Linked DNA regions of Homo sapiens: all the other regions are linked to region 1. The links come from fine-mapping of genetic effects on gene expression. A gene starts in region 1. Each other region holds a variant in brackets. All regions are shown on one strand. Distances are between the middles of the regions. Region 1 holds the start of CPQ (carboxypeptidase Q). Region 2 overlaps CPQ (carboxypeptidase Q). Region 3 overlaps CPQ (carboxypeptidase Q).

Region 1 (10,431 bases):
TTTTAAGTGAGTTATTAAATTGATGTGTCTTTTTAGACTGAGGCCCTATTGTAATGTTTGGCCAAGGTCTTGACTGTGTGACATCACAGCACAGCTACAGAAAAGGCTATATCCTGGGATCTCCACCCAGATGTTCCACAGCTACCTCTGCTCACTCACCGTCTTTCTCCCGAAACTTCTTCCTCACCTTATATTTCTTACCCTCATTAGTGGCATCTCCACTCACCCAGTTAAGCAATTCCAAAACCTCAGATTATTTTCAAACATATTTCCCATATCCAGCTCCAGCTAGTCATTAATCCTGCTCTGTCTTCAAATAGTCTCTCAAACCTATCTTAGTTTAGATCCTTATCCTATTTCATTAGACCTATGGCAATAGCATCTTCATTTTCCTGTGGCCTTCTGGCTCTTCCTTCCCCAATTCTTCTGAAACATTATTACTGTAGCTATTTTCTAAGGAAAATCCAATCATATCATTCCTCTGTTTAAAATTCAGCTTAAAAATGCTGAAAAGAGCCAGGCACAGTGGCTCATGCCTGTAATCCCAACACTTTGGGAGGCCAAGGCAGGCAGATAGCTTGAAGCCAGAAGGTCGAGATCAACCTGGCCCACATGGCAAAGTCCCGTCTCTACTAAAAATAAAAAAATTAGCCAGGCTGTAGTGGTGTGTGCCTGTAGTCCCAGCTACTTGGGAGGCTGAGGCAGGAGAATCACTTGAACCGGGAGGCGGAAGTCGCAGTGAGATCTTGCCACGGCACTCCAGCCTGGGTGACAGAGAGAGGCCTTGCCTCAAAACAAAACAAAACAAAAATAATGCTGAAAAGGATTATCTAGACTGTGATAAAGTTTAAATAACATGACATTCAAGGACCATCACTGTCTGGCCCTAACCTTACCACACCTCCCTACCACAGCCACACTGAACTCCCATCTCCTGAAGAATGCCATGTTCATACTTGCCTCCTTTTCCTTGCTCTTGTTGTTCTCCATTCTTGGAATACCCTTCTCCCTCTGCTTGGTCTTTAGGCTTTAAAACACAGTTCAAAATTCACCTTCTCTGCAAAGTCTTCCTGAGTTCCAATCATACCTCTTTCCTGGAAGAGTGAGTGGCCACTACTTCCACATTACCCTGTGGTGCAATTGTTTGCAGATGGGTCACTCTCCTATTTAGATTTGTTCTCATTCATCTTTACCTGTCACATAGTATACACTCAATAAATGGTTATTGAAATTAATATTTTCTGAATAAAATAAAGTAAAATTCCACAGATCCACAAGTACATCCCTCCAAATACTTTGCTGCATTAAAGAAAAGGGCCCAGGAATAAAGAGAAAGAACTAATAATGTGACTGTAACAAACACATGAATGGGTTGTTTGTTTTTAAAAGCTAAGTGGTTTAGGGAGGGTAGGGGAGAAGAAAGTACATTTTAAAGCTCTAGCTGCAGGGCAAGTAATAAAAATTGTTGCTTTAATGTTTTTTTCATAATATTGTGAGCAATGGGAAGGTCTATTCCATCACACCAGCCTTCGGGGCAGAAAGTTTCAGCCTCCTGAGCTAAATCAAACTGGCATCAGCTCTTAGTTTTTCAGGCGGCCACAACTGGTCTCTGCTTTCCATGGGGCTAAACTTGGCTGACGAAAAAGAAACAAAATAATTTCCCATTTATTTTATGGGCCTCTCTTTTCGTCTTTTGCTCTCTTCAATTAATTATAAGGGTTCTGGAAACCCATCCTGCATTCTTGTCTCTGGATTACACAGATGTAGGCATTGTTCTTTGTCTATACTAGGGGTTGTTGGTCTTATAAAGAAAGAGGTTGGGAGGCAGTGCCTTACCAAGGGCACAAAGCTAGTCCAAGAAACAACACTGCTTAGCACTCATGGTTCAAAGCCCTTAAGTGCCATTCACTGATGGCAGCTGTCGATGTCACTCATTTTATATTCCCTAAATTGGTAAGTCTGAACACATTTAAAATTAAGATGCATGGGCACCTAGGTCAAAGTATCAGAGTCTCCTGGAATCTCAATGGAATTCAATAATTTTCAAAATGATAAAACAACCAACTCCCCTATAATTCAGTCTTCATCATTTCACCCTGTGCTCTCATTCTAAATTCATTTACCCAAATAACCCAGGGTTTGTATATATGCTTGAACACACACAGAGACCACATTCTTCAAAGTCACACAGTTTTTCCTGGCAGGATTGTCTTGTTTCTGGGAGAAACCCTGTTTCCATCTGCTTGAGTTTTGAGTCCTAACTCTCCCATTTTCCATGTACTGTTTCTAGTTAAGAAGATCAAATAGGACTTACCATAGTATCTAGCTCTTAGATATATAGTGATGATTAAATGGGGCAATATAAGTAAAAAGGTTAAATATAACAGTGCCTGGTGTATGGTCAGTGCCCCATAAATATCAGCTTTGTAACATTCCATGCCTGTATGACACATGACCTCATTGGGAAAACAGTGTGAGAAAGTTGGCCCTTTTCACCAAGCAACATGTGTATTCCACTTCTCCTTATAAACTTGAATTCACTGAAGTAGGTAACATTAATTTCATTTTACTTAACACATTTGGAACTTTGTGTTTGTTAAATGTAGCATGCAAAAATATTTAAATATGTATGTATAATGACTTTTGAAGTGCCTTTAAAAAATCTCCAAGGTCCTTCCAGCTCCAAAATGTGATCTATGATAACTAATCTCAAATGCATGCGAAGAAATAGTGATGCAGTTCCCCAGATATACTGGGAATATATGGCATTGTCAGACTGGGTTGCACTGGAAAAAAGTCAGACCCAGGACCAGGAGCCTGTGACAATGTAGAAGAAAATCTTACCCTCCTTTCTCCCCACCAGCCTAGGGTTTATTACACTTATCTTGAGCTCCCAGGCTTTCTTGTTGCAGATGTGGAGAAGAAAGGAAATGAGCTGTAAACAGCAAAGAAGAGAGCAGAGACAAAATGCTATGGGAGGTGAAGTAAGCAGAACTCCATGAAATCATCTGTAATTTCACCTTCTAACCCTGATACAAAAGAATCCCAGAGGTTTAACTCAGGCAGGGTTCCTAGCTAAACATCTTCATTTTGGAGATTAAGAAATTAAAACCTAAAGAGATCAAGTGGCAAGTCCAAGGTCATCCAGCTCTTCTGGAACCTGGACCTGGCAAGTAAGAACGGCTGCAGTGACCAACTGTATTAAAGCTATGTGCTAAGCCTATTTGTTTACAAACAGATAAGCGTCTTTCTGGGCCTTATGTAGCCTTCTTCAGTCACCTGCAAATCAGCCAGCACCTGTCTCAGGAAAACAGACAAGATTCTTAACAACTCTGAATTCAAAAGAAAAGCCTGGTTTTACAAACAAGTCAGAGTCATATGGTTCTGCCTTCAGAGTCACCCTTATCTTTAAGAAATACATGAAATAATATTATAGTGACAATGATTCTTTAAACGTCCAAAGTAGAAGTGAACAAAACACAAGCAAGAAAAAACCTAGGCATATTTTGTTTTAAGCAAACACATATAGCCAAGTCCAACAAAAATGGAAATACCAGGGGGCGTTTCCAGAGACCATTTGAACAGCATAGAACTCTTTTTAAGTGGTCCCAATCAGAATGCCTCCATTTGCAAAAGTGCGACATTCACACAACTTTTTGGAAAGCTATCAAAAAACAGGAGTTGTAAGCCTGCGTCTCCACTGCTTCCACTTCATACATCTTTATTTTCACTCATGCACTGATTGATTCAGCTGTATCTCGTATGCACTCATTTATTCACTTACTCATTTGTTAATTCACTCAGTTCTACGGCATAGGTACTCATTCAATTACTTATTGAGTAGCTCTGAGTCCTAAGTCAGATGGGACTTTGCCCTCATGGAACTTCGATTCTAGGAGAGTCCAGTAGCAGAAACTAGACGCATCAAAAGCGAAAGTACACGGTAAAATGCGAAAGGAACCCCAAAAGAACTGCATAAGGCATATTGGAGGCTCAGGGGGACCAGGATTGTTTGCAGATGGGGGATGAAGGGGGCGGCTTGGGGCTGAGCCCTGGAGCTGAGGGGAAGTGAAACCGTGTTGGGAAGGACGGCTGAGGGCCGTGCTCGCTGCTGTCCCGCAGCACCCTCCACCACCCCCACGTCACAGCTTCCCCATTTCTAGGCTCGGTGACTCCACTGTCACCGAAGGGGCAGCCACAGGCTCCCAACCCGCCGCTCCCCAGCCAGGTCCTCCCGTCACGCCCCCGAATGAGCGATGCTGGAAGTCCGTCCCCCTCTGCCCCCGCCCCTGGCCTGCTCCAGCCTCAGCCCGCCCGACCCCCGCGGGTAGGAGCCAAGGCCTCGGCCCAGCCGCCCGCGGGCACTGCCAGTTCGGCTGCAAACACACCTGATAGGGCGGCTCTGACGGCGGCGACGGAGGCGGCTCCCAGGACTAAGCTCGCGGCCTAGCCTTACGGTGGCGGCGGCCACACCCCTGACTGGGCTGGGGCCCTCCGCGCCGCCCCGTGACTGCAGCCCTGCTTGCCGGCCAGGCCGCGGGGCCGAGAGGCGGGGCAAAGACCTGACTCGGGAAGCCGGGGCGGGCGCCGGGTTCGGGCTGGGGGCCACCTCCGGAACGCCTGGGGGGTTCTCACTCGCCCTCCAAGGGCGACCTCAGGGCCACAGATCGGCCGGAAGGCTTCTCAGCTTCTGGGCTGTGGCTCCTGTTAGAAAATTGAGTGTCGCCCTGGGTCCCGAGCCCCTAGGCCTGACTCCTTCGTGCAGGGGCGTCGCCTTCAGACTGGGTGGTGCGCAGGCCAGGGCCGCGTGCTTTTCAGAAGCGCAGCCTCAGGCGAGGCGGGCGGCAGGGGCCTGAGAAGGCTCATGGCTTGGCAGAAGGGTCCTGTGCTTCAGTGGGTGCCCGTGCAGGTGGAGAAGGACGGGGCTGCGAAGCTGAAAGGAAAACGTGAAAGGTTTTTGTGTGTCTCTGAGCCTGAGTAAAGGCCATGCTTTCTGAGCTGTCAAACGCCTCCCAAAGGGAAGAGATTATTAAACCGTTTTCCCACCCTGCCAGGTGTAGGATTGTTAGGCGGTGATGATGGAAGGCAGAGATGACCCGAACTGAGAGATCAGAAAAAGCGTTTTCTCTTTCGTTTGTGCCTGAATTATATGAGGGTGCCCAAGAAGAAAGGAGACTCATCTGATTACCCGGTGTGGCTTATCTCAACAAGTCACACGCATTCTGGTCACAGAGTATGTGCTCAGTGTTTTCAATGCTTTATGTTTTGATAAGTGCAAATTCCTTTGTTTAACGAAACTCTTATCAAATACAAACAGTTATCTTTGTGAAACACTGAGCAGTTCCAGTCTCTCCTCTTAACTAAAAAAACCAAACAGAACTTTTAATTAGAAAAGAAAAGAAAGAATAAGCACATGCCTACTGGGAAAAAAAAAATACCATAAAATGTGCAAAGTCCACTCACCTTCGGTTAACAGTCCCTCTAAACCTTACTAGTCCTGTTGCCCACTGAAACAAGTGTGAACTCTGAGGCATTGGAGGGTCCACATAAACATGGCCCTGGCCCACCTTTCCCGAATCATCTCTCGGATGCCATATCTAACCCCACTGAATTACTTTTTTCTCAAACTATCAAGGGTAAAAGACAAGTTTTTATTATTTCCAATCTGACATGGACCATTATTTCTGTAAAATACAAATCAAAACCTGCTAGCAAATAAGAAAAGAGACAAAAACTACAAGCCCAGTTTTTATTACAAGTGTACAATGAGTATGCCAAAAAGTATAAAATTAGTTTTTCAATTATTGGTTGTTGTTGTTGTTTTTATTTCTAAATGCTTACTCACAATTTCTATACTTACCTGTTCATGGAGCAGTAAAAAGCTGTTCACTGACTGGCGGTGGTTGGATTACCGTTTAAGTGGCACTGACTTGCTGTTCTTTAATTATGTCAAATGCTTTTCAACTTCTGGGCCTTTTCTCATGTTTAATGTGAACGAAGTTCTTTCCCACTCAAGTTTCAACTCGTAATAACAATAAAAGCTTCACATTTATTGAGTGCCTTGTGCTAAGATTTTTGATGCATTAACTGTGAATTCTTATTTGTCCTATGAGCTACCTATTATTATCATTATTATTTCCCCCCACTGTACAGATAAGGAGATGGAGGATTAGAGAGGTCAAGTCACAAAACCAGTGAGGTACAAAGTCAGCATTAAACTGAGCTGGCCTGATTCTGGAGCCCAAGCAATCAACCAACATGCTGGGCCCCTCTCTGTGAAACCTCCCCCATTTGCTTTCAAGTTGAAATTAATCACTCTTGCTTACACCTCTACTCTAACATTTTTTCCCGTTGGTTTTCATTCATGTCAGCTTCCCACGCTAGGCTTTAAGCTTCTGAGTACAGTGAATTTGTCTGCTCACACTAATCACAGGAAGCAGAGCTCATTCGCATCTTTGCATTACCACTATCTTTTATGCTTACTTCATGATATGTTTTAATTATTTATTCTTGTCAGCATCCTCTACTAAACCATACAATGTTCAGAGTTATCTTACCAAAGATGCTTTTATTTATTTAATTGAATAAGCATTTCTATAGCATGTATAATGAGCCAGGTACTATTCCAAGAATTTTAAAACCTCGCAAATAGACCTATAGATATTATTTTATCCCTCTTTAAACTGTGAGGAAACTAAGGCATAGAGAGGTTGCAGTAAGTTGCAGGACCAGAATTCCAAACCAAGCAACCTGCCTGGCTCCAGAATCTATTTCTGAGCCACCATGCTATGTTGATTTTCCACAATACCATGTGTTCTTCCTACTTAGAACACTTCACTGCAGGGAGATCAATCCATAATGGCCAATTAGAAGCCCCTGCCCGCAGCACTCAGGGAGGAATGAGAAGGGGCAAGTGAATTCAGTACCTTCAACTGAAATATCCAGGTTCTCTCATTGGGACTGACTAGGCAAACCACCGGCCCATGGAGAATGAAGAAAAGTTGGGCAGGGTGGGGAGCCCACCTCGGAGCAGCACAGAGCCAAAGGAACCTCCACCCTCAGCCAAGGGAAGTGGTGAGTGATTGTGCAACCCAGGAAACCATGCTTCTCCCATGAATCTTTGCAACCTGTGGATCAAGAGACCCCCTCATGACTCCACACCACCAGGGCCTTGAGTCTGATACACAGAGCTGTGTGTTGTCTTGACAGAGCAGCCACTCAGGCACATACAAAGAGGCCCAGAAGTTTTACATACTCTGGCCACAATCATCAGCAAGGCAGGAAATCCATCTGTAGGAAGGGGGCTGAATCCAGGGAGCCAAGCAATACCATTCTTCAGGCCCCACTTACATGACACCCCACAAGTTAAGACCCACCAGCTTGGAATCCCAGCCAGCCAATGGCAGTGGATAGGAGTCTGCCTGAGACAGGTTTGAGTTCCCAGCAGGTGGGGCAGCTGCCGTCTCTGTGATTCAGCCGACTCAGCTGCTGCAGCCTCCTGGATGTGGAGAATACAGACGGTCTAAACTAGGAAGGGTTCCCTCTGCTACAATGCAGCACACCTGCCCTACCAAAAAGCAGCCAGACTGCTTCTGTAAGCGGGACCCCAAGTCATTCCTCCTCGCTAGAGAGGACCTCCTTAAGCCCCTCCAGCAACTGTTTTATGAACAGAGCTCTGATCTCTCCCTGGGACAGAGCTCCTGGAGGGAGGGGAGGCCATCATCTCTGCAGTTCAGTAGACTCAGCCATTCAAGCCTGCCAGCTGTGGATAATACAGATGGACCATACAAGGAAGGGTCCCCCACAATGTAGCACAGCTGCCTTGCCAAATTGCAGCCAGACTGCTTCTTTAAGTGGGACCCCAATCCATTCCTCCTCATGGGTGGGTCCTCCCTGCAGGAGCTTCAGTCACTCCAGCCAGGGCGCTATGGAGAGAGCTCTGATATCTCCCTGGGACAGGTTGCCTTGGAGAGGGACAACCACCATCTTTATGGTTCAGTGGACTCAGCTGATCCAGCCTACCAGCTGTGGAGAATACAGGTGGTCCAGACTATGAGGGCCCCACCCACCCCCACTCCCAGTACAGCACACCTGCTCTACAAAAAGCAGCCAGACTACTTCTTTGGGTGGGTCCCTAATCCCGTTCCTCCTGACTGGGTGAAACCTCCCAATGGGGGTCTCTAACCACCTGCTGCAGGTGTATGAGGGCTGGCAACAGATCAGAAACCACCCAAGATGAAGCTTCCAGAGGAAGAAGCTGGCTGCCATCTTTGCTGTTTTGTGGCCTTCACTAGTGATACCTCCAGATACAGGAAAAAGTGAGGCAACTGGGGTCTGGAGCGGATCTCCAGCAAACTGCAGCAGTCAAGTGGCCTGACTGTTAAGAGAAAAACAAACAAAACAACAACAACACCATCAACAAAAAAGACCCCACAAAAACCTCATTCAAAGTCAACAACCTCAAAGATTAAAGGTAGATAAGCCCACAAAGATGAGAAAGAATCAACGCAAAAATGCTGAAAACCCAAAAAGCCAGAGTGCGTTTTCTCCTGCAAATGACCACAACCCCTCCCCAGCAAGGGCACAGAACTGGACTGAGGCTGAGATGGCTGAACTGACAGAAGTATGCTTCAGAAGGTGGGTAACAACGAACTTTCCTGAGCTAAAGAAGCATGTTGTAACCCAATGCAAAGAAGCTAAGAAACATAATAAAACAATACTGGAGCTGATAGCCAGATAACAAGAATAGGTGAGAAAGGAATATAACTGACCTGATGGAGCTGAAAAACACAACACAAGAGCTTCACAATGCAATCACAAGTATCAATAGCAGAATAGACCAAGTGGCGGAAAGAATCTCAGAGCTTGAAGACTATCTTTCTGAAATAAGACCAGCAGACAAGAATAGAGCAAAAAAGAATAAAAAAGAATGAACAAAACATCCAAGAATATGGGATTATGTAAAAAGACAACCTACAACTGATTGGGGTACCTGAAAGAGACAAAGAGGATGAAACCAAGTTGAAAAACATAGTTCAGGATATCATCCAGGAGAACTTCTCCAACCTAGCAAGACAGGCCAACATTCAAATTCAGGAAATCCAGAGAACTGCAGTAAGATACTCCACAAGAAGATCAATCCAAAGACACCTAATCATCAGATTCTCCAAGGCCTAAATGAAAGAAAAAATGTTAAAGGCACTCAGAAAGAAGGGCCAAGTTACTTACAAAGTGAAACCCATCAGACTAACGGTGGACCTATCAGTGGAAACCCTACAAGCCAGAAGAGATTGGGGGCCAATATTCAACATTCTTAAAGAAAAGAATTCTCAATACAGAATTTTATATCCAGCCAAACTAAGCTTCATAAGTGAAGGAGAAATAAGATCCTTTTCAGACAAGCATATGCTAAGGGAATTCATCACCACCAGGCCTGCCTTTCAAGAGCTCCTAAAGGAGCTCCATGTCCCTGCAAAGGACATGATCTCATTCCCTTTTATGGCTGCATAGTACTCCATGGTGTATATGTACCACATATTCTTTATCTGGTCTATCATTGATGGACATTTGGGTTGATTCCATGTCTTTGCTATTGTGAATACTGCTGCAATGAACATATGCGTGCATGTATCTTTATAATAGAATGGTTTATATTCTTTTGGGTATATACCCAGTAATGGGTACCCCTGAACTTAAAAGTTGAAGAAAAGAAAACAAAAAACACTTCACTGCTTTTAGGATAGGACAAAACTCCTTAGTAGGGCCTACAAAACTCTGCATGGCTTGCTTCCTGGTTAACTCTTCAGCTGCATCTCACACGAAACTCTCTGACTCCCTTCTAGCCAAACTTGTCTTATCTCCTTGCTCCTAGGAGGCATGCTCCCTCCAACCATAGCACATGCGGTTCCCTTGGCCTGGAATGCTGTTCCCTCACCTTGTTCCTTCCTCAACTCAAAATTGTCCTTCAGATTTTAGCTCAGGAAAACCTTCCTAGATGAGGTCAAATACCCTATTATATATTTTGAAAGCATTTTTAGTTCTTAACGTAATTATCACTGAATATTTATTTATTTACTTACTTACTTGACTAAGGGCAGTCTCCGCCTTTTAACTCTAAGCTCCTTTATGGCAAGAACGATATTATTTACCCACATTTATATCCTCAGTATAGAGGGCAGTGCCTGGCACATAATACACAGTCAGTAAATATTCACTGAACAAATGAAGAAATACACAGTGCTCAGAGTGTTATGAAAATATAAGAGGGGCATGGTGGTGTGCTTGTAAATGCTTACCAACAAGTTGTTTTTTTTTTTAATAAAACCCTCATTTGTACCATTTGTTGATTTCCATGCTATCAATACTTCCATCATGGCCAATTTCCAGATGCCAAAGTGATGTCATGCAACACTGGAGCTGGGAAGTGATATG
Region 2 (10,431 bases), 400 kb before region 1:
TTGGGCCCCAAACTGTCAGTTTATGCTTGACTCCTCTATTTCTCTCATACTCCATATGCAATCCACCATCAGATTCTGTTCGCTCCTTCCTTAAAATATTATCTGCAGCCTGACAACTTGCTATGCCTTCCACAGCTATCATCTTGTTCCAAACTACACTCTTGTCTTGCCTAGGCTATTATCTTTCTTCCATTCTGGTTCCCCTTTAGTCTGTTCTCAACCAAGCAGCCAGAATGATTATTTTAGAAAGTTGATTCAGATCATGTTTCTCCTATGCTCAAAAGCCTCCCATAGTTCCAACCTCACTCAGAGAAAATGGCCCATGGGGCTTGACTCTGCCTGGGCTTCTTTATATTGACTTCTTGTCCTACTGCTTTCCTTTCACTGCTCCATTTCAAGCACATTGGCTTCCTCCCTATCCCCTGAATGTCAAGCATGGCCTCCAGCAGCACCTTTGGAACAACTCTCCATCTTCGCTAGAATGCTCTCCTCCAGGTATCCACGTGGCTCTCCTCTTCATCCTTTCAGGTCTTAACCAAATATTACCACCTCCATAAAGTCTGCCTTGTTCCCCTCTATCAAAAATTAAAACAGCCCCCTCCTCATGTACTCTATCTCTGCTCCCTGTTTTATTTTTCTCCTTAGCAGTTATTTTCATCTAACATACAATTTTACTTATTTATCCAATTTATTATCAGTCTTGATTCACTAGAATGGAAGCAAGATGAGGGCAGACCTCAAAACACTGCCTGGCACTTAGTAGGCTCTCAGTAAACATGTGCTGACTGAATGAATAAATATATGCATGTATGTGTGTGTTTAAACACATATGTGTGTATATTTGTATATGTGAACCCATGCGAGCATGTAACTAGATGCCATTTTGGATGATGGTGGTGGTGGTGAAGATAATGATTATGTTGATGATGATGATGTGGTTACTCATGTTGGTGATAAAATAACATCAGTTTTTCAGAATCTGTTTTCCTTTTTAAAAAAATGTTCTCAAGAAAACCTACAGTTCCACAATTAAAGTTATTAGCTGAATCTTTACTGTGTATGTTATAAAGCACTTAATAATATACAAATGTTTACAACATCCATTATAAGTGCTAAAACAAATGCTTTCCAGGAGGATATATAGAGTGATAGTGATTTTTTAAGAAGTGGCCATAAATTATCAAAATACAAGTGAAACTTCAAAGGTCCCTTCAATAATGGAATAAGATGCTCTTATTTTGGAGGCTAGGTGGCAAAATCTCCTCCTTCTCAGGTGAAAACAGGGCTGAATATATTCTCAGTAGACTATATGTCATCATCATTTTGCTATCAAAGATGAGACTCCCATATGTTAGACTCACCAAAATAACTTGGCCATTACTCAGGAGGAGAAGGAGATGAGCAACAGTAACTGAACTGACAACATAGAATTTAAAAAATATTAAATATATAATATTTTAAAACTGTATCTTTGTTGTGCTAAAGTTAGCACATCATGAGGCTTATAATGCATGTGTAATCAGTAAGACTCAATTACAGTAACTAATAAATGTGTCCTGGGACTACTTAGATTTTTAACAATCGCTTCACATATTTTGTAAGTTTTAAAATATTCAGGCAAGATGAGGAAAATAATAAACAGATGAGGCAATTTAGCTTTGAGAAGAGTTAACATAATTTAATGGGTATAGTTTAGATAAAGAGAGGCTAAGGAATTATAGCAATTACTGAAAAAATCCAAATAGGTACCTGTATTGAACTAAGGGAGGTGAAGAAAAACAATTTCCTTCATCTGAGAATAGTAATAAGTAGCAGCAATAATCACCTAAAGGTAGAAGAGGAAAATAGCTATGGTAGAAAATAGCAGCAAATATGTCGGGAATAATGATCATTCTGGGGAGCCATGTGAGGACCACTGACGGGATACTGAACACTAGAAATCCTCAAGGAGGGTTGAATAAAAAGCATTAGTCAGACACTCAGACCTCTCCTCCAGTTTCTCTTTGGATATCTGTGTTCTCCATCAAGGGCATCATTGGTGTTTAAAGGATGTGCAAGTGACTAGGGCAACCATGCTGAAAAGGTTGTCAGTCTCAGAGAGGGGTGGACACTACAATACCCACCTCTATAGTGCTTGCCACTGGGGAGCAAAAGGAGGTGATGTACAAGTGCCAATGCCATTTGATGCACTTCTCAGCCATAAGGTAAATAATATTAGGCAAGTTACTTAATTACTCTGAGCCTCAGTTTACTCATTTGTAAAATGGGAATAATAGTTGTTTTGCAGGTTTATTCCAAGGCAGCAAGTCCTAATCGGGGTCCCTTGGGGGTTGATACACTTGGATGAGCTCTGTGAACTTGAATGGGAAAAAATTACATCTTTATTTTTACTAACCTCTATGTAAAATTTAGAATTTTCTTTACTTATGAATGTAAGCAACAAACTTCAGTAGTATTAGCAAAACCTGTCACTTTGTTGCTGGTAGAAATCATAGATCTTTTCATATCACATTAGACTTGTTGCAGAAATCTCTAAGTATTCTTTATGTTCATCATTACTTTGATATCATAGTCATAATTAAATAATCCTTCAAGATCTTGTTTAATTCATTTGGAAAACCACATATATAACTATATTGCAAATTTAGCTTAAAATTTTTGGTAACTATATTTTAATAAAATTCATATCCTTGTAATACTATGCATTTTATTTTATGCATTCAAAAATATTATTTGAAAAGAGGTCCATAGGTTTCACCAGATTACCAAAGTGGCCTGTGGCACAGCAATGGTCAAGAACCTCTGTTGGGCAAATGGTAGCTTTATTAGTAAGGTAGTAATGGTGATTATGATGATCATTCATAGTGTTATTATTATTAAACTCAATGGAATTAATTTGCCCTGGACCTGTGGGTTGGAGTACTGGTTCTGTCACATAATAGCTAAATGACCCTGGCAACCATTAATCTCACTGAGCTTCATATCCTCATCAAAAAGAAAGGGCTATTTAATAGGGTTGTTCTGAGGATTATATAAATTTAATATATTTATTTGAAGGGCTATAATATACCAAGCTATTCTGTTCTCTCGAGGCATTGTTATTACCAACAAAAGTGACTAATAAGTAGAGTAACCATTACTTAAGTTGCTATGTAGGCCAGGAAACTTTTGAGAGTGAAAAGGGATTCTATTAATGATTATGTCAGGACAATGGGTACAAGCTGGACTCTCAAGCAAATCAGGACCAAAAGGCTACTTAAGCACAATTTTTCTAATTTTTTTGAAATGGGGTCTTGCTACGTTGCTCAGGCTGATCACAAACCCTGGGCTCACGCAATCCTTCTGCCTCAGCCTCCCAAGTAGCTGGGATTACAGATGTGCACCACCACGTCTGGCTTGTTTTTCTGATTTTTTGCATCTCCTGTTTCTGCCAGTATAAAATTCAAAAGATAAAATACCATATTTCCCTAAATGTAAGAATCACAGTATTCTCCTTTTTTAGCATTTTGGAAATTGGAATGTATCTTGTTATTGATGCATTCCATAAGAAAGTTACCAAATTCTAGGCAAATAAACAAACATATTCATTGTATTGTATTCATATATTCATTGTCATTGTTTGTCCACATGCAAACTTCATCACACAGAAAGGGCCCTGGATAATGTATTTTACACTTCACTTATTTACACTGGTATCAACACAGATCATTAAATTTTAAATTACAGTCCATAATTATTGATTAAAATTCTTCATTATATTTTGATGTACACAGAAGATTGATTTTCATGTGTGAGGCAAAACAATGAAAAACAATAGAAATCGCCAAATCTTCAGAATAGACTCTAGAGTGTTCAAGGTGAGCAAAGACTGGTGTAGCCAGCCATGAATCATGGAGGCCTCCCACTCAGGTACTAAGCAATTTGCCAAAAGCTCCCTTAGAGTTTCAGGAGAAGCTATATGGCTTACAGAAATATTAAAATTAAAAATTAAGTGTAAAAAACTTGGCCAAATTGAAAGTACAGAGGAAAAACGTGTTCAATATGCCTTGTAATAGGCTGCCAACCACAAGGGTACACCTTTAGCACCTTGTCAAAACAAGGAGCATGGGTGACACAAAGTGGCCTGGCACCTTAATGCCAATGCTTCACTGCTAATGACCAAAGGGTTCAGAGACATCTGCAGACTCTGGATTGAAGGTATTTTAGACATGGATTGATTCTAAAAACAAAAGTGTTGGGCACTGTATGATATTGTCAGTTTAAAAACCCCTGTGCATTTAATGTAGTTTTATTTTTCCTGAAAATTTGTATTAATTTTAATCGCACCACTAACAATTGACGATCCTTAAATCAAAGAAATGGAGAACTGAATACCTTCTAACCCATCTCAATGTGTCACTATTGAGTTTCCACTCCCCTTCCTCAAGCTCTACTATTTTCTAGTTTAAATTTGAGAATGCAATTATTTGACATTCAGTTGTTCTAACTGGGGAGCTGTTAATGGTGGTTGTATTTTAAAAATAAAAGTAAGTTTATTTCACTGCAATTCATAATCTGATTGCTTTGAACCACATTTAAGAAAAGCAGTACAAGCCAGACTGTCGCAGCTGGCAGCTCTGCCCTTTGACATCCTTTGGGTCTCCTTCTCAGTAATAATGTACTCACATAAATATCACTGTCCTATATTAATGGTAAAATATCTGCTGAAGGAAGGAGGTGTATTATACACATAAATTTAAAAGGCATTTTTCACCTAATCAGAGTAGTCATAAGAAAAAAGCACTTCACTCCACTTGAAAATTTCAATATTATAAAGTCCAGAATTGCTGGTTCTTATAAAGACGATGCTAATTTATTACTTCA[C/T]TCATGTCACTTCCATGTAATGAAATAATTAGCTGGGAAATTATATTTGCATTCTCAACACTTTTGTACAATAGGAATGTCAGTATAATTAGGCATTAACTACAATTTCAGAGAATTGAAGGTAGCAGCTTTGTGTACAAGTGAATATTTTTTTTCCCTTCATTTGCTCCATTCTTATCTTGGTGATTCAGAAAAAGATGTTTAAACAGAGCCTTTCAATGAAAGCCATCACAAAAGTGTGCCATATTAAGGTAATTGCCTACAAGATGAGAAGATAGAAATCTTTCTGCCAAATTCTTTGGAAACCAATGGGCTTCATGCCTGAGGCACCAACAATTTGTTAAATTTTTGAATATGTCCTTCATTCTCATTTTCCGTTCCACCTCTGTTGTATTAGGCTTTGGCAGCTTAAGCTCTCTAAAAGGGGCAGCTCCTGATCACAGCCACCTTTCATTGAAGAAGAACAAACACCAATCCATTCTGGCAGGTGCAGTTTTCCAATACATTCAGAAAACAGTTTGGGAAAGAAAGTATTAACAAACTGAGCTCTCAACTGTGAAGAAAAGAACATGTTAAAGGTTACAAATAGTTTTATCTCCTGAACAAGGAAAGAATGAATTAGAGTCCACTTTTTTAGAAACTAAAACAAAACAGTGTTAAATTATTTGTGCTTTGAGTTTAGTTTGCAAGTAATATTTAAATGTCTCTTTTGCAATTCAGAATTCATCCCATCTCCCAGTCATTGATCCTTCCTTAGTGCTTTCATGCAAGAACTACTAAGGCAACTGGGATTAAGGGACTTTAACTTTTGGAGACCTACAGCTACTTTCCTTTATAATTGCTCCCCCAATCTTCTAAATTGTATTACTTTCTTTTATAATTGCTCCTCCAATCTTCTAAATTGTATCCTTCAATGAAGAAATCACTAAGTGGACCTGGCCAGGAATATTCTCATTGTCTGATAGTGTTAAAAAATACTGACATACGTAAAATCTCTATCCTTGGAGATCTTTAAATATAGCACAGGTAGGGGTCCATTCTGATGTATCCCTGTCCTTGGTGTTTCGGGAATGGTTATCCTGAAAGAAGAAAGCCAGACTTGATTTTTGGAGGGTCTTCACATATAGAGTGTCTAAGCTCTATACACATGGGAAAGATATAAAAACAGACATATACATGCATTATTTCCATCTCTCAAAGGTTAGGGTTCTATTCTCACTTTTATTTGAAGATGAAGGCAGTGAGAAATGTCCTAGAGTAGTATGTTAGGGTGCCTCCGCTCTGAACGCAGTCTTTTGAATAGTGAAATGATTTTAACATTTATTATTATTAGAAACAGTTTTTCATATCATTAAAAGATCTCTGAACTTTTTAATTTTTCTGTATTGTTTAGCTAAAACTTTACCTAGAAAATGCCCCAAACTAAAGGAAAATTACACAGATGACTGAAGTGAAGTGTTGTTGGTTATTTTTTTAAAACTCATTGTAGCAGGATTTATAGAATTAACTTCGTGAACAAATACAAATATTTATTTTTATACCAAGAAAGTGTGAATATAAAACATTGAGAATTACTAGTGACAACTGATGTCTGCATGGTTACACAATATCCTTTGGCCATTGTATAGAATTGATACCATGCTATATGTGTTTTAAACTAAGCACCTTGAAGCAACTTCTCCTTTCATCTATTTATATGTTACTGATTATCCAGCATTCCTAAATATGCTGCTATGTATGTCCTTCAGTTTATGACAAATTAGTAGATATCTACATTTAAGATGGTGACAGAGAAGTATGTGGTCATAGAAGTCATGGCTGAAGTCCAAGTTCAGGCTCTGCACCTTATGGGCTGTGCTATGCAAACTTGGGTACATTCTTCACTTCTTTGAGCCTCTGTTTCTTCATGTGTGAAATAAGGAAAACAGTACATGGTCTGGCAACCACCAGGGTCATTACTATCATCAATGACTTGATGTCCACGAAAGCGTAATTTATAAATGATCACATAGATGCAAGAGATTATAATGCCATCTTTTAAATGGTAAGAACTTGTTACATATTTGTTTGGGAAATGGGACCTTTCAAAATTCTTGGTGGTTTCTTTTCTCTCTGTAAATCTATCAAAACAAAAATCTCTAGCACTGAAAAAAAACAAATTACTTTTCCTTACGTGGAAAAAATGGGTAATTTTCACAAAGCACTTTTCTGTCTGTCTACTATTATGTTCCTTTCCCTTTGACCTTTCCTAATTCAAATGACAAAACAGTTTGATTGCCTCTCATTTGGCTCTGTGAGTTATAATAAAGTATTTTCCAGAGCTTTGGAGGGGAAAAAACACTGCCAGCTATGGCAGTGAGGGCAGGTGGATGCTGTACGTTCTTCCAGCCCTCAGTTACTACCTGGAGAGTTGCCTGAAACACATTTACAAATATGGCACTGCCTCTGATTTCACAGGGGAGGGAGTGCATCTGATTGGATGAGTTTTATTAAATGAAACTATAGGAATCCATAAAAGCAAATTACACTCCCGTTTTAACTAGTAACAGAAATTCTGTTTAATCTTAAATAAATCATATGATGAAACCACTTTAAACCTTTGTTGAAAGGCCTTGTTAAGCTCCCTAAATTTGAATTGTTGTTTATACATGTTTTGCTGTGTGGGGTATAAAAGCTCTTTGGAAATGGATTTTGAGAAACTCTCCTTTAAGACAACCCTGAAACCAAAACAGTTTAGACAAAACTGCTGGTTGCTAGGGGCAACCTCAGCTTCTAGAATGAATAATTACAAATGTAGGACAAGCATTTGATGAGAGTACACGAGAGAGGTCTTCTGGAAAAAAAAAAAAGGAATAGAAGTTCCGATCTGCTTAGGAAAAAAAAAAGTATGCCTTTGTGTTTTTTACACACATAAGTGAGTCAGCAGAAAATACAGATGTGACCCAATTGATAAGGAAATCAGAAAGCTAGACCGAGACCAGCCTCTCAGGGCACACATGGTATCTTTAAGACACCACAGGATTTGGTTAATATACTCAGGAATGATCAAGTAAGATGAGTAGCAGAAAGAAAGACAAAAGTGCTCACTTTGCACTCACAACAATGTCTAACAATTCTGGGGCTCAGTTCCCTGCCTGATCTTCAGCCCTTAAAGTAACATAGTTTGGGTATTGCCCATCCTGGCTTCTGGATACTGCGTCTCAAAGTACAAAGTGGATGTGCCAGCGAGGAGCTGCTTTCTGGCATTGGCTTTATGAACAGCCCTGCCAGTACTTCTGCTCGTGCACTCCTCAAGCTGTCTTAGAGAGACCACTCTTTGATGTTTACGTGTTAGTGTCGTGGAAGCACAGAAAATCACAGTAACCAGAAGTAGAAGATGAACTTCCAGAAGGGCTACTGAATACCCAAAGACCTAATGATCTTTGGGTCACTTGGGAAGAGCCTCTCTCCCAGAAAATAATTCAGGTTTAAAAAAGAAATACTGAGCCAAGATGGCTGAATAGGAACAGCTCTGGTCTACAGCTCCCAGCATGAGCGACGCAGAAGACAGGTGATTTCTGCATTTCCATCTGAGGTACCAGGTTCATCTCACTAGGGAGTGCCAGACAGTGGGCGCAGGACAGTGGGTGCAGTGCGTCGTGCGCGAGCTGAAGGAGGGCGAGGCATTGCCTCACTCGGGAAGCACAAGGGGTCAGGGAGTTCCCTTTCCTAGTCAAAGAAAGGGGTGACAGACGGCACCTGGAAAATCGGGTCACTCCCACTCTAATGCTGCGCTTTTCCGACGGGCTTAAAAAATGGCGCACCAGGAGATTATATCCCGCACATGGCTTGGAAGGTACTATGCCCACGGAGTCTCACTGATTGCTAGCACAGCAGTCTGAGATCAAACTGCAAGGCGGCAGCGAGGCTGGGGGAGGGGCGCCCACCATTGCCCAGGCTTGCTTAGGTAAAAAAAGCAGCCGGGAAGCTCGAACTGGGTGGAGCCCACCACAGCTCAAGGAGCCCTGCCTGCCTCTGTAGGCTCCACCTCTGGGGGCAGGGCACAGACAAACAAAAAGACAGCAGTAACCTCTGCAGACTTAAATGTCCCTGTCTGACAGCTTTGAAGAGAGCAGTGGTTCTCCCAGCACGCAGCTGGAGATCTGAGAATGGGCAGACTGCCTCCTCAAGTGGGTCCCTGACCCCTGACCCCCCAGCAGCCTAACTGGGAGGCACCCCCCAGTAGGGGCAGACTGACACCTCACACAGCCGGGTACTCCTCTGAGACAAAAATTCCAGAGGAAGGATCAGACAGCAGCATTCGCAGTTCACGAAAATCCGCTGTTCTGCAGCCACCGCTGCTGATACCCAGGCAAACAGGGTCGGGAGTGGACCTCTAGCAAACTCCAACAGACCTGCAGCTGAGGGTCCTGTCTGTTAGAAGGAAAACTAACAAACAGAAAGGACATCCACACCAAAAACCCATCTGTACATCACCATCATCAAAGAACAAAAGTAGATAAAACCACAAAGATGGGGAAAAAACAGAGCAGAAAAACTGGAAACTCTAAAAAGCAAAGCACCTCTCGTCCTCCAAAGGAAGGCAGTTCCTCACCAGCAACGGAACAAAGCTGGATGGAGAATGACTTTGACAAGTTGAGAGAAGAAGGCTTCAGACAATCAAACTACTCCGAGCTACAGGAGGAAATTCAAACCAAAGGCAAAGAAGCTAAAAACTTTGAAAAAAATTTAGACGAATGTATAACTAGAATGACCAATACAGAGAAGTGCTTAAAGGAGCTGATGGAGCTGAAAGCCAAGGCTCAAGAACTACGTGAAGAATGCAGAAGCCTCAGGAGCCGATGCAATCAACTGGAAGAAAGGGTATCAGTGATGGAAGATGAAATGAATGAAATGAAGCGAGAAGGGATTTTTAGAGAAAAAAGAATAAAAAGAAACAAACAAAGCCTCCAAGAAATAGGGGACTATGTGAAAAGACCAAATCTACGTCTGATTGGTGTACCTGAAAGTGACAGGCAGAATGGAACCAAGTTGGAAAACACTCTGCAGGATATTATCCAGGAGAACTTCCCCAATCTAGCAAGGCAGGCCAACATTCAGATTCAGGAAATATAGAGAACGCCACAAAGATACTCCTTGAGAAGAGCAACTCCAAGACATATAATTGTCAAATTCACCAAAGTTGAAATGAAGGAAAAAATGTTAAGGGCAGCCAGAGAGAAAGGTCGGGTTACCCACAAAGGGAAGCCCATAAGACTAACAGCGGATCTCTCGGCAGAAACTCTACAAGCCAGAAGAGAGTGGGGGCCAATATTCAACATTCTTAAAGGAAAGAATTTTCAAACCAGAATTTCATATCCAGCCAAACTAAGCTTCATAAGTTAAGGAGAAATAAAATACTTTACAGACAAGCAAATGAGAGATTTTGTCACCACCAGGCCTGCCCTAAAAGAGCTCCTGAAGGAAGCACTAAACATGGAAAGGAACAACCGGTAGCAGCCACTGCAAAATCATGCCAAATTGTAAAGACCATCGAGGCTAGGAAGAAACTGCATCAACTAACGATCA
Region 3 (10,431 bases), 290 kb before region 1:
GGAGGTTTCTTCAGATTCCTAATTTCCTCCATTATTTCATTTTAACTTAAATAAACCAAGAGGACCAGCCTGCTACTTTCTTGCTGTGCAACATTATGCAAGTTACTTAGCTTCCCTGTGCCTTGGTTTCTTAACTATAAAAGGAGAAGAGTAATAATACTTAAAGTGCTGCTTATTATGAGTATTAGCAGAATATATAGAAATCGTGCAGAACAAGGCCTGACCCATGGTAGTCAGTTATCAATGATTTGTATTATTTGTATTATTTCAATTGTATCTATGGATTGTATGAAAATAGGTCCCACCATTACATACAGAGAAAATAGTATATAGGATCTTTATAACAAACTTAATTATTGTGTACACGCATCTACAGATGCACCTCAGGGCTGTCTGTTCTGTTCCATTGATCTTAGCTGATATTGAAATTCTTAATAATTTACTTACAGGTCATTCAGCTTTTCTAATTAAAATTCTGGCCTGGGATTATCTGTTATTTTACAGTGAAGTGCTAGAGGCTTTCCAAAGAAAGAGGATTTGTATGGGTCTGGAAGGCCAGCTGCTGACTCCAGCTTTCTATCGTTCAAGCCACTGGACATTACCTGGATCCAGTGGGAGCCTTCTAGAAAGCCAGATCTCTAGTAAGTAATATATCTAGAATCCTCTCAAATGGAGCTCAACTAGATTAGCTATAAGTACATCATAGGAATGTCTGGCTGCAGCTCCTAGAGGTGACATTGAAAGTCATATTCATAGTTATTTCCTGAAATAAAGGCAAGGAGCCAAAGGGAAGAATGACAAAGAGGCACTAAACTGAATTTTTCCAAGTGTGGCTCTTAGAGCACCAGCATCAGAATTGTCTGTGACATCTGCATCAGTGCAGACTCCTGGGTCCCGCCCCAGATCTAGTGAATCAGAATCTGAGCATGGGTCCCAGGAATCTACATGTTTTTGTTTTTGTTGTTTGTGTTTAAAGGAATATACATTTTAATCAAGCACTCAGATGATTATAATGGATGGTATATTTCCAGAACTGCTCCGGATATTCCACCCAGGTCATGGGACTGAGCCATAAACCTATGTTGTTGGTGATGGATCTTCTGTATCAGCTAGAGGAGCCATAGGTTGTTTGACCTATGTCTCACCTCTTTTATACCCCAAGGGTCTGTTTTTCATTTGCTTGGTCCCTGCACCCAACCCAGCCTCAAACAGAGAAACCAAAACTACAAATCTCGCTGGGACCAAAGAAGGCAACTGGGCAGAGCTGGCCACCCTGAAAACTTCGCTCCAAGTAACCTGCCTCTATAGGATTCCTTCCTTAACATGCATCTGGCATTACATACAAACAATTGTAAGGGCTTAGGCTAAGGAGTAAGGTTTGCAAATCCAAACTCAGCCCCCTGCATTATGGGGATGAAAGAAGGGAATGGGATATGGTAAAATATCAAATAATTGCATTTTGTGGTTTACTTGTGAAATCAAGTTAAACAGTCTTTGGAAGGGCAATGCTATTTCAGGTTCTGCCAACAAAAGTAGCCAAATTGTTTCTCTAAGTTATGAATGAGGAATATACCATTCTCAGTTATTTAGATATTGCCAAATAAATTAATCTTCTCTAGAGGAAAGGATAAGGATAAACATTCCAGCTCATATATTACCATTAAAGAGATTCACTATTTCAGCAGTAGCTTGAATGGCTAAACACCTTCCTCTTTCACTTATCTGCCTTATTATCACTCTATCAGTTCAGTTTTCTTGCATTGCTATATTTAAAAATATAAAAATGACTACATTTAATTCATGGTTATGACAATAGGACTTAACAACGCAGTATGTATGTAAAGATATGAAAACAGTGCTTATCTCATCAAATAAAATCACAAAGTTTCATTCTAATTGTTTTAGAATCATGGTTCTCAGTTATATTCATGACATACCTAGCAGGAAAGAAAAACATCACCTCTGGCAGGATGGAATAGGAGACCTGGAGGAGCTTGGCAAATTTTCCAGGGTTCCACAGCATGTTAGCTGGGAAACCCTCAGTTCTAAGCTGCCTTGGTTGCTCCATCTACTCAACCTCATACTGACACTCAATAACAACTCATTACTACTAATAGTAACCATATTGTACAGTTTTAAGACATACTGCCATGCTTTGGACAGGAGCCTACAAAGAAAGAACTCTTTATAGAGTGCAAACTAGGGCAATATATGGGCAGCTGAAAGTCTGAAGCTGATTTACATGCAAGCCAGTCAGGACAAAAGATTAAAGAAACTAGGAACCCAGGCAAATTCAGCTGAGCTCTGGCATGCAAATAAAGTTTACAAATGAGAAAGACATCAAGTTTATAATAGTAAGAGTGCAAGGCCAGCACAAGTTCAGCCAATCCCAGCAGCTTGTTAAAAGCAGTTCTCCCCTACCCCACTGAATCTGCTTTCTGATTTCAAAGTTATATAAGCCTAGCAGCAGCAGCAGCAGCAGCAGCACCAGGGCACTCCATGTAGTACCCACATTCCATCCAGCCAGTTACCAAGTGCCAGATATGCTTCTAAGGGAGAGGGCCGAAAGCAATTTTGTAAGCCCCTGTGTTTTCATTTATGTGAATTTCTCAGCTTTTCTAGGTCAGAGAAACACTGGGTGATTACAAGCTCTTACTTATATGGGAGGGTGAAAAAGCATGCTGGCTCATTTTAAGGAGCTGACACCAGTTCCCAAGATTTGGGGAAAGAAGATGAAGTGCTTGAATGAATCCAAAAGGTATTCTTTTTAAGTATAATTAATTGATAGAACGTTTAATGTCTCCTGAAGGCATCGATAAAGAGATCATATGAGGTACTCTGAGTATTAAATTACCAAAGAAGACTAACTCCAGTAATAAAAGATGGGCTAGTTGATAGAAATTCAACTCCATGTAGCTCTTCCTACACTACAATGAGTAAAAAGCTGAAAACATTTTAGAGTATTGATTTGTTCATTCATTTAGCAAATACTCAGTAGAACCTACTTTATCTTAAGAACTGAAGTGAACTCAAGAAATACAGAAGTCAAGTTTCCTTCTCTCACTCCAAAAGACATCTGTCCATTCCTCATCATCCCATTTGCAGGCTACACAGTAATAATTCATTTGTCTTCTCCACTGGGTTTTAGTGAATCAGTGAATGAATACATAAAAGAAGCAAAGAAAGAAAGAACAAAACTAAGGAAGGATGAAGAAAGAGAGGGAGAGCAAGATGGAGCACTATTCCTTTCAAGAGTACACACAATCCAGTTTGCTGTTAAAGTCAAATTTGGTAAAAAGAAATATTTGGAGAACTGATGGTTTTCTCTTTTTGTATGTGAGCTAACTTCTCCATATGGTAGCAATGTTAACCTTCAGTTTTATGAACCATGATTTGTATATGGATTTCTACTAGAATTACATTTATTTTAGAGTTGGAAAGAATTGAAAGGCCCATTTGGCAGATTTGTTTTAATGTATTAATTATTTTTAAATATAATTTATTAGTAGATGACATAAACTTAGGGAACAATGAGGCAAAAAAAATAGGGCAAGAAAGAGAAAATCATTTTTACAGAGAAAAGTAGAAAAATATTTATTATGATAACAGAGTCAGACTCTCATTAAGTTTTTGCTTGGTATCCCTGAAAAGAGTATTGATGGTAAAAAGTTAAGCCTTCTGCAAATACCATGCACTAAGGAGGAAAAGGAACAACCAGAATTCTTACATACTTCTAATGGGAATGTAAATTGGCATAATCCCATTGAAAACAATTTGGCATTACCTAGCAAAGCCAAGTATGTGTAAACCTCGTGACCCAGAAATTCCACTCCTAGGTATATACCCTAGAGCAACTCTTGTATGTATGTGCCAGGAGACACGGACAAAAATGTTCATAAGCAGCACTGTTTGAAACAGCAAAAACTGGAAATGACCCAAAAGTCCATCAACAGTAGAATGGAGAGGTGAATTGCGGCATATTCACACAATGGAGTGTTATAAGCTATGAAAATAAATGAAGCACAGCTGCACACTGCAATATGAATGCTATGTTAAAAAAGCAAATTGTAAAAGACTATGTACAACTAAAACGGCAATTTTATAAAGCTTTTTAAAAAGTAACTATATAATATATTGTTTCAACATACTCATAATATGGAAAAACTATTTTTAAAAAGTATAAGAGAATTAACACAAAAAACTTCAGACTAGCATTGGCGGGGTGAGGGGACACAGGAAGACTGTATAGCAGGGGTCCCCAACCCCCAGCTAGCATACTGGTACCAGTCTGTGGCCTGTTAGGAATATGGCCGCACAACAGGAAGTGAGCATTACTGCCTGAGCTCTGCCTCCTGTCAGTTAGATTAGTGGCAGCATTAGATTCTCATAGAAACCCAAACCCTATTGTGAACTGCACATGCATGCTCCTTAGGTAATTCTAACTAATGCCTGATTGCCTGATGATCTGAGGTCAAGTAGTTTGATTGACTAAGGTCGATGGTATTAGTGATCTTAGGTTGAGAGATAAATTTACAGATGACTGTTTTATTGCTAGGCTTCATAACTCACATAGGTGGTACATATTCTGTTGTATATACCAACTATTACATATACATAATTTTAAAAAGTTCAGATACCTTGTATGACGAAATACTAAGCAGCCAATGAATAAAATAATTAAATTAGATCCATACATACTGATGCAAAAAGGCTTCAAGACAAATTGTGTTAACAAAAAGTCCCAGAATCGTACTACAGCACAATCTCATTTCTGTAACAAGGAAGCACAGAAAGTAAAAGCTCCTAAAACTATATGCTATGTATGTATTTGTACTGGAGACCTTCTGTTTGCCCCTCTGATCCACTCTCCACCTTTCTCCACTCAGCTCTCTGGCTAAGGGGGCTGACCTATATGGACTACATCAATAGGTTTTCTTGTTCCCTTGGCTTCCCATAGGGTTCAGTCAATGGGGGCGCTTAGAAGCAGAGAGGAAGGAGTGCATTTATTCCCAGCCCCTTTCCTGTGGTTGCTAAGAACTGGCTGCATC[C/T]CTCCATCACAGGTCTCAGTGCCCATTAGAGGGTCCTTTCTGCAGCACCCTTTCTGTGTCCAGGTTTCCATGACCACTTCCTCTCTGTGCCCCTTCAGATTTAGGGTTGATAATCATGATCCCCTGTGCTTTCCCTATACCCTCTCTACATCATATAAATAGTCCCTTTATTAAACTAAACCTCAATTATCCTAATTTGGTTTTGTTGCTGTTGTTGTTTAGAGACCAGGGTCCTGCTCTGTCACCTAGACTGGAGTGTAATGGCACCATGCTAGTTCATTGCAGCCTCAAACTCCTAGCCTCAAGCGATTCTTCCACCTTGGCCTTCCAAAGTGCTGGAATTACAGGTATAAGCCACCACACCCGGTCTAAATTATTCTAATTTGAATGTACCATCTGTTTCCTACTGGAATCTCAACTGATACAATTATATATGGATATGCAAGCATAGAAAATGGACTAAAAAGATACACAAGAGAAGGTTATCAGTTGTTAACGCTGGTGAAAGAAGCTAGAATTTAAAGAAGGAAAATATTAATGTTTTGGCCTTTACATTTCTGTATTATATAACTAACTTATTTCTAAGAGGAAAGTGTCATGTAATTTTTTGGGCAAAACAAAATTTTAAGAGTTCCAAAAAAATAATAATTTTTAACAATGCACAATCTGGGTAGTTTAAACAACAAACCAACTTCCTTTTATCTCAACATTCCCTGTGCCTAGCACAGTGCCCGACTAGCACAGCATGATAGGAGCGTCTAAGGAATGCAGACACTGTAATCCTGTGAATATTAAACCTAAAAGATATCTTAGAAGCAAGCTTAGCTTCTGTAAGGTTTAGTAATAAGAGGGAAGGGAGAAACACCTCTAGAGTCGCTCGACAGAGGCTTCCTAAAAAACATGGCAATTGACTGCGGGTATAGGCAACAACTGGACTGTCGGCTGGATCCTGGACTGCACTGTGCATACAAAGCTCACGTCCCAAGCCCTGTGCAGGCTGAGCTGTGTCATGGTCTCCAGACACTAGAATTTCACTTGACCATGTTCATACAAGTGTCTCTCCTAAGGTCTAAGGTCTGGCAGACTTCCAGTACTACTATCTCCTCTCTTGCTCCCCAGGGCCTGGAGGCGTTTCTTGATTATGAACTCAAGGCAAAATCCTTTGGCTACCATGCTATGACTACTGGACTGGACTCTATCTGAGCACCTGAAGCTGGGGGTGGCCACCGACACCTGCCTTACCCCAGCAGGGAGATTAAATTCAGGTCCAGGCTCCTCCCATCTGGCCCACTCAGCCATAGAAAACTAGCTCTGGCTAACTCAACTTGTCCTTCAAAACTCAGATTAGATGGCACTTCCCCTGACAAGGCTTTCCTGATTCCCTGAGTTTAAGTGCTCTCCTTAAATGACCCAAAGGCACTGTGTACTTCCTCTATCATAATATTTATTATACTATATTGAAATTGCCCATTTACTTGTGTGTAACCTCTCAAAAAACTGTAAGCTTTTTGAGGGCAAGACTAAGCCTTATGCATCTCTCAGTCATAAGAGACAATGACATAGAGTAGGAGTCATTAAATACTGGAAAGAAAAAGGGAGGAAGGAAAGGAGGGAATACCCAGAGAGGGAGGAGAGAGGGAGGAAGGAAGGAAGGAAGGAAAGATATCACATGCTGCTAAATCCATACATATGACAATACAAAATAAATGACCCTGTTTTATCTCCTCTAATGACTTTTAAAGCTATGGGAATGGAGAAATCAAGGTAAAGATAAAGTAATAGATACGTCATATGCTTACTGAGAACCTTCTCTCCACCAATAACTGCCAGGGTGATAAAATTGTGAGAAGAAAACAGACCATACTCCCTTCCCCAGTCTCATTCATATATGTGGAAAACTTTGTTTTTCAAACTTCTGATGTTTCTAAATGTTTTCATATACTTTCCAAATATCTCCCCAATATCTTTGGGATATTTAGATATTTCTGTATGTTTCCACTAATTGTTGACAGGCAAGAGATTTTGTGAGGTTGAGTTAATCAGCACTTGGTACAGCTATCAGAGACCTGTACTGGTTCCTCTGTGCTGAATTATCTCAAGAATTCTTTGCCAAAGTAATAAAAATTAATGTTTAATGTTGGCCTCTCTGTCTCTTTGATGGCCTTACTGAATTCTGTGGTATTTAAAGCATCACGGAAAGTAAATAATGAAGGTTTGATGTTGCTTTTTTAAACACAAATGAAACCATTAAGCAAATGAGTCAGAAATTATATAAAAGAACATTAGGAATTGAAACAGACCTGAAAACAATTTCTAAAAGATGTTAGGCAAAACTTCCATTCCATTCAGTCCAGAAATACTGCATTAGACCCACAGTAAACAATGCTACCTTTTAACTACCTGCCACCAATCTTACCTCCTTCCAATGTGGTCCCACTGTACCCCATTGCTGCACTGCATCTGGGTGAGGGAATGCAAGCACTTCATTCTTAACACACAAACCCTGAGTTTTCTCCAGGCACAAGAGAACTACACAAAAAGGCCACAAAAATGAGGGAAAGAATATACACAAAATTATAATTTCCTATCTGATGTTCACTACTTGACTTGGGCTCATAAGACATTGGTTATGTTCATGAGAAAGATAAGCAATACATGGTTAAGAAAAAAAAAAGAGGTAGACAAATTTGGAAAGCCCAGGTGTGAGGATAATGAATTAGCATTAACTTACAATTGTCTACATGTGGTTCACTAATGGAAACCTTTTCATCTCAGGCTGAGTTCCTGGCTATCATCAGGACAGAATTTATAAGTAAAGTATTTTATGCTATGCCACAAAGTAGATATTTTGTGCTATAATTTGAGGGAGCCTAAAAAACCCTGAAATACAAAATCTCCACCTTCTCTAACCCCCTCACTGGCCTTTCCATGGTACCCCAAATTTCCATGTTATACTCAACTAAAACACGTACAGTCCTTCACAAAAGGCTAATGCTATCAGGAATACAATACCTTAAACTGTTATCAGCTTGTGGTGGGTTGTGTGAGGGTGATGTGTGGGTGAGTGAACACATACTAGCTTAACATCTATTTCCCTCTCTTTTGGAAACAGAAACCTGGTAACCTCTTGGGAACCTCCTCTTCCCCACAGTCATCCATGGTTTGGGTGAGACTGACCTTGAGTCTTGGTTTCAGTGGTGGGTACCTGACCTAGTTTAAGACTATCACAGTTCTATAACCCCATCACAATGAAAGTAGGCACATGTCTCAAGCCAAATTAATGAAAACCCTATCTAGGACCTATGCCAGAGACATTTCTCTATGTTTCTTGGGATGCCAAGATGGTAGGATATACGCCTGTTGCCATTAAGGCCTTTTGGACACTATTTGTAGGATATAAGCCTGTTGCCATTAAGGCCTTTTGGACACTATTTGTAGGCAGCTTGCCTGAGAATGAAGCCACACTGAGAAAAGTTAAGCCTTGTGAAGGAGAGGCAAACACCTGACATCTTCTGGAAACCTGGATTCAGCCCTACCAAAACTCTTCAGTTACACAAGCCAATAACTTCCCTGCTTATCAAACAAGTTTCTCTAGGTGTTTGACGTTTAAAATCCCAAGAGTCCTGATTAATACATAGGTATTGATGTCCTAGGTTAAGTAATCAAAATGTATGGTAGAGAGAAATGTAGGCTGCATAGTGGAAGAAAGAACACAACTGGGAGACCGTGATGATCTGTCTCTGTTCCTTTTCTGCCCGTAAGTGCTTATCTTTGGGTATGGCCCTTCATAATAAAATAAGGGGGCTTAAAATAATGAACTCCGAGCTCCCTCTAAGCTTTGACATACTGTGCTTCTGGGTATGCTTTGGAGGGTGGAAATAAGAATCAAAAAGGAGCTGCTCTACAGGGCATATTTTGTAGGCTTGCAAAGTGGGGTGGGAGTGGGGGGCTTGTTTAGCCCAGGTGGCAGCAATGTGCAGGCAAAAAACGTGGGTTGCTCACATTAAGATGAATGGTCGCACAGACTAACTTCAATGACTTGACAATTTTCCCAGAACCAGTCCTGACTATCAAAGAAACAAACTTCTGAGCTGAAGTCAAGACCTTCCTATTATCCATTCTTCTCCACGAGTAAGGCTGCCCCAGAGGTGAGGAGATGAGGGAAGCGGCTGACATACTTAATGCGTGACTTGGCCCCTTTTGCTCAATCATGCCCCTGCCTGGAATGCCCTCTTCACTTAGCTCCCCCAGTCTAACACCTACTTGGCCTTCAGCATCCAGCCCGAGGGCTTTCTCCTCCACAAAGTCTTCCCATGCCATAGCAACACACAGTAATCTCTCTACCATCCTTAATCCTAGGCTTGTTGTGTGTTTCTCTCACTTAAAAATTACCTGATTCATGGATGGGCCTCTCTGCACTGATGGGAGACTCCAGAGAATGCCAGACATGACATGCCCAAGGGCACCCAGCTTCTCAGTGATAGTCAGATGAGAATCTAGGTCCCTAGACTCCACATGCAGAGCTCTTCCCTCCATATCCACTGATGGCTCCTACTGCTACCTTCTCTTCAAGCTCCTGTTGCATTTTCACCTCTTACTGAATGCCTTCCAGGTGCTAGGCACTGTTAGGTTCCTTGTGAACATTTTCTGCAATCATTACAGTTGTGGTAGCGGTACGTAGCACTATTCGCATTTTATAGATGAGGCACAGAGAAGCCAAGTGATTTGCTCAAGGCCACAGAGCTAAGGACAAGAAGAGCTAGGATTTGAAACCGGACTATCTGGTTGTGAAGCCATTTTTTTTTCTTCTCTATCACTGTCATCACCATCAATACCACATGGTCATCACTGCTATTACTAAGCAAGCAGCAGGAAACTTAAAGACATTACCTTACATTGGCTCCATCTTGCAACATGGGTATTAATCCCATTTCATTTTACAGATAAGGTCACTTCCCCCAGGAAGCTTTTGCTGACCACCACACCATAGAATAGTATGGTGCTCCTCCTAAGTGTTCCTCTGCCCTGTGTGCTTCCTCTCCCTGTTTTAGCATTTATTTAGTGCCTTGGAAACACCAGCGTTCAGTCTCCTCCTCTGAATTAAACACAACTTGTCGGTGTTAGAATGTCTTGTCAATTACTTGTTCAGTAAACAATTGTTGAATGAATGAGGGTGACAAAGTCCACAAGAAGCTACTGCTGATGATACAGGACCACTTTCCATTTCATTCTGGACCCTCTAACCATTTACTACAGGAGGGAGCATCCAGTTCCACACAGAGGAAGAACAAATGGGCCTGGGCTGCTGAGAAGAGCAGCATAAGGGAAAAGCTGTCTCCCTTTGACTGAAGCTACACACTTGGCGTTTTCTCACCAAATCTGA

The links.
Region 2: its variant is fine-mapped to the expression of CPQ in whole blood (INTERVAL, PIP 0.95).
Region 3: its variant is fine-mapped to the expression of CPQ in Th1/17 cells (Schmiedel 2018, PIP 0.95).

Annotation. Positions count from the first base shown.
Region 1 is chr8:96,639,360-96,649,790 of GRCh38, reverse strand. It overlaps CPQ (carboxypeptidase Q), which reads right to left and starts at 4,549. Exons shown (of 8, transcript NM_016134.4): 1 at 4,389-4,549. RefSeq lists a silencer at 4,125-4,674.
Region 2 is chr8:97,043,549-97,053,979 of GRCh38, reverse strand. The region is part of intron 6 of CPQ (carboxypeptidase Q); the gene reads right to left. The region is part of intron 2 of LOC101927066 (a long non-coding RNA gene); the gene reads left to right. Among named protein-coding and RNA genes, the nearest start is that of TSPYL5, 230 kb to the left of the region's middle. The variant C/T (reference allele first, on the strand shown) is at 4,864.
Region 3 is chr8:96,933,236-96,943,666 of GRCh38, reverse strand. The region is part of intron 4 of CPQ (carboxypeptidase Q); the gene reads right to left. Among named protein-coding and RNA genes, the nearest start is that of CPQ, 290 kb to the right of the region's middle. The variant C/T (reference allele first, on the strand shown) is at 5,049.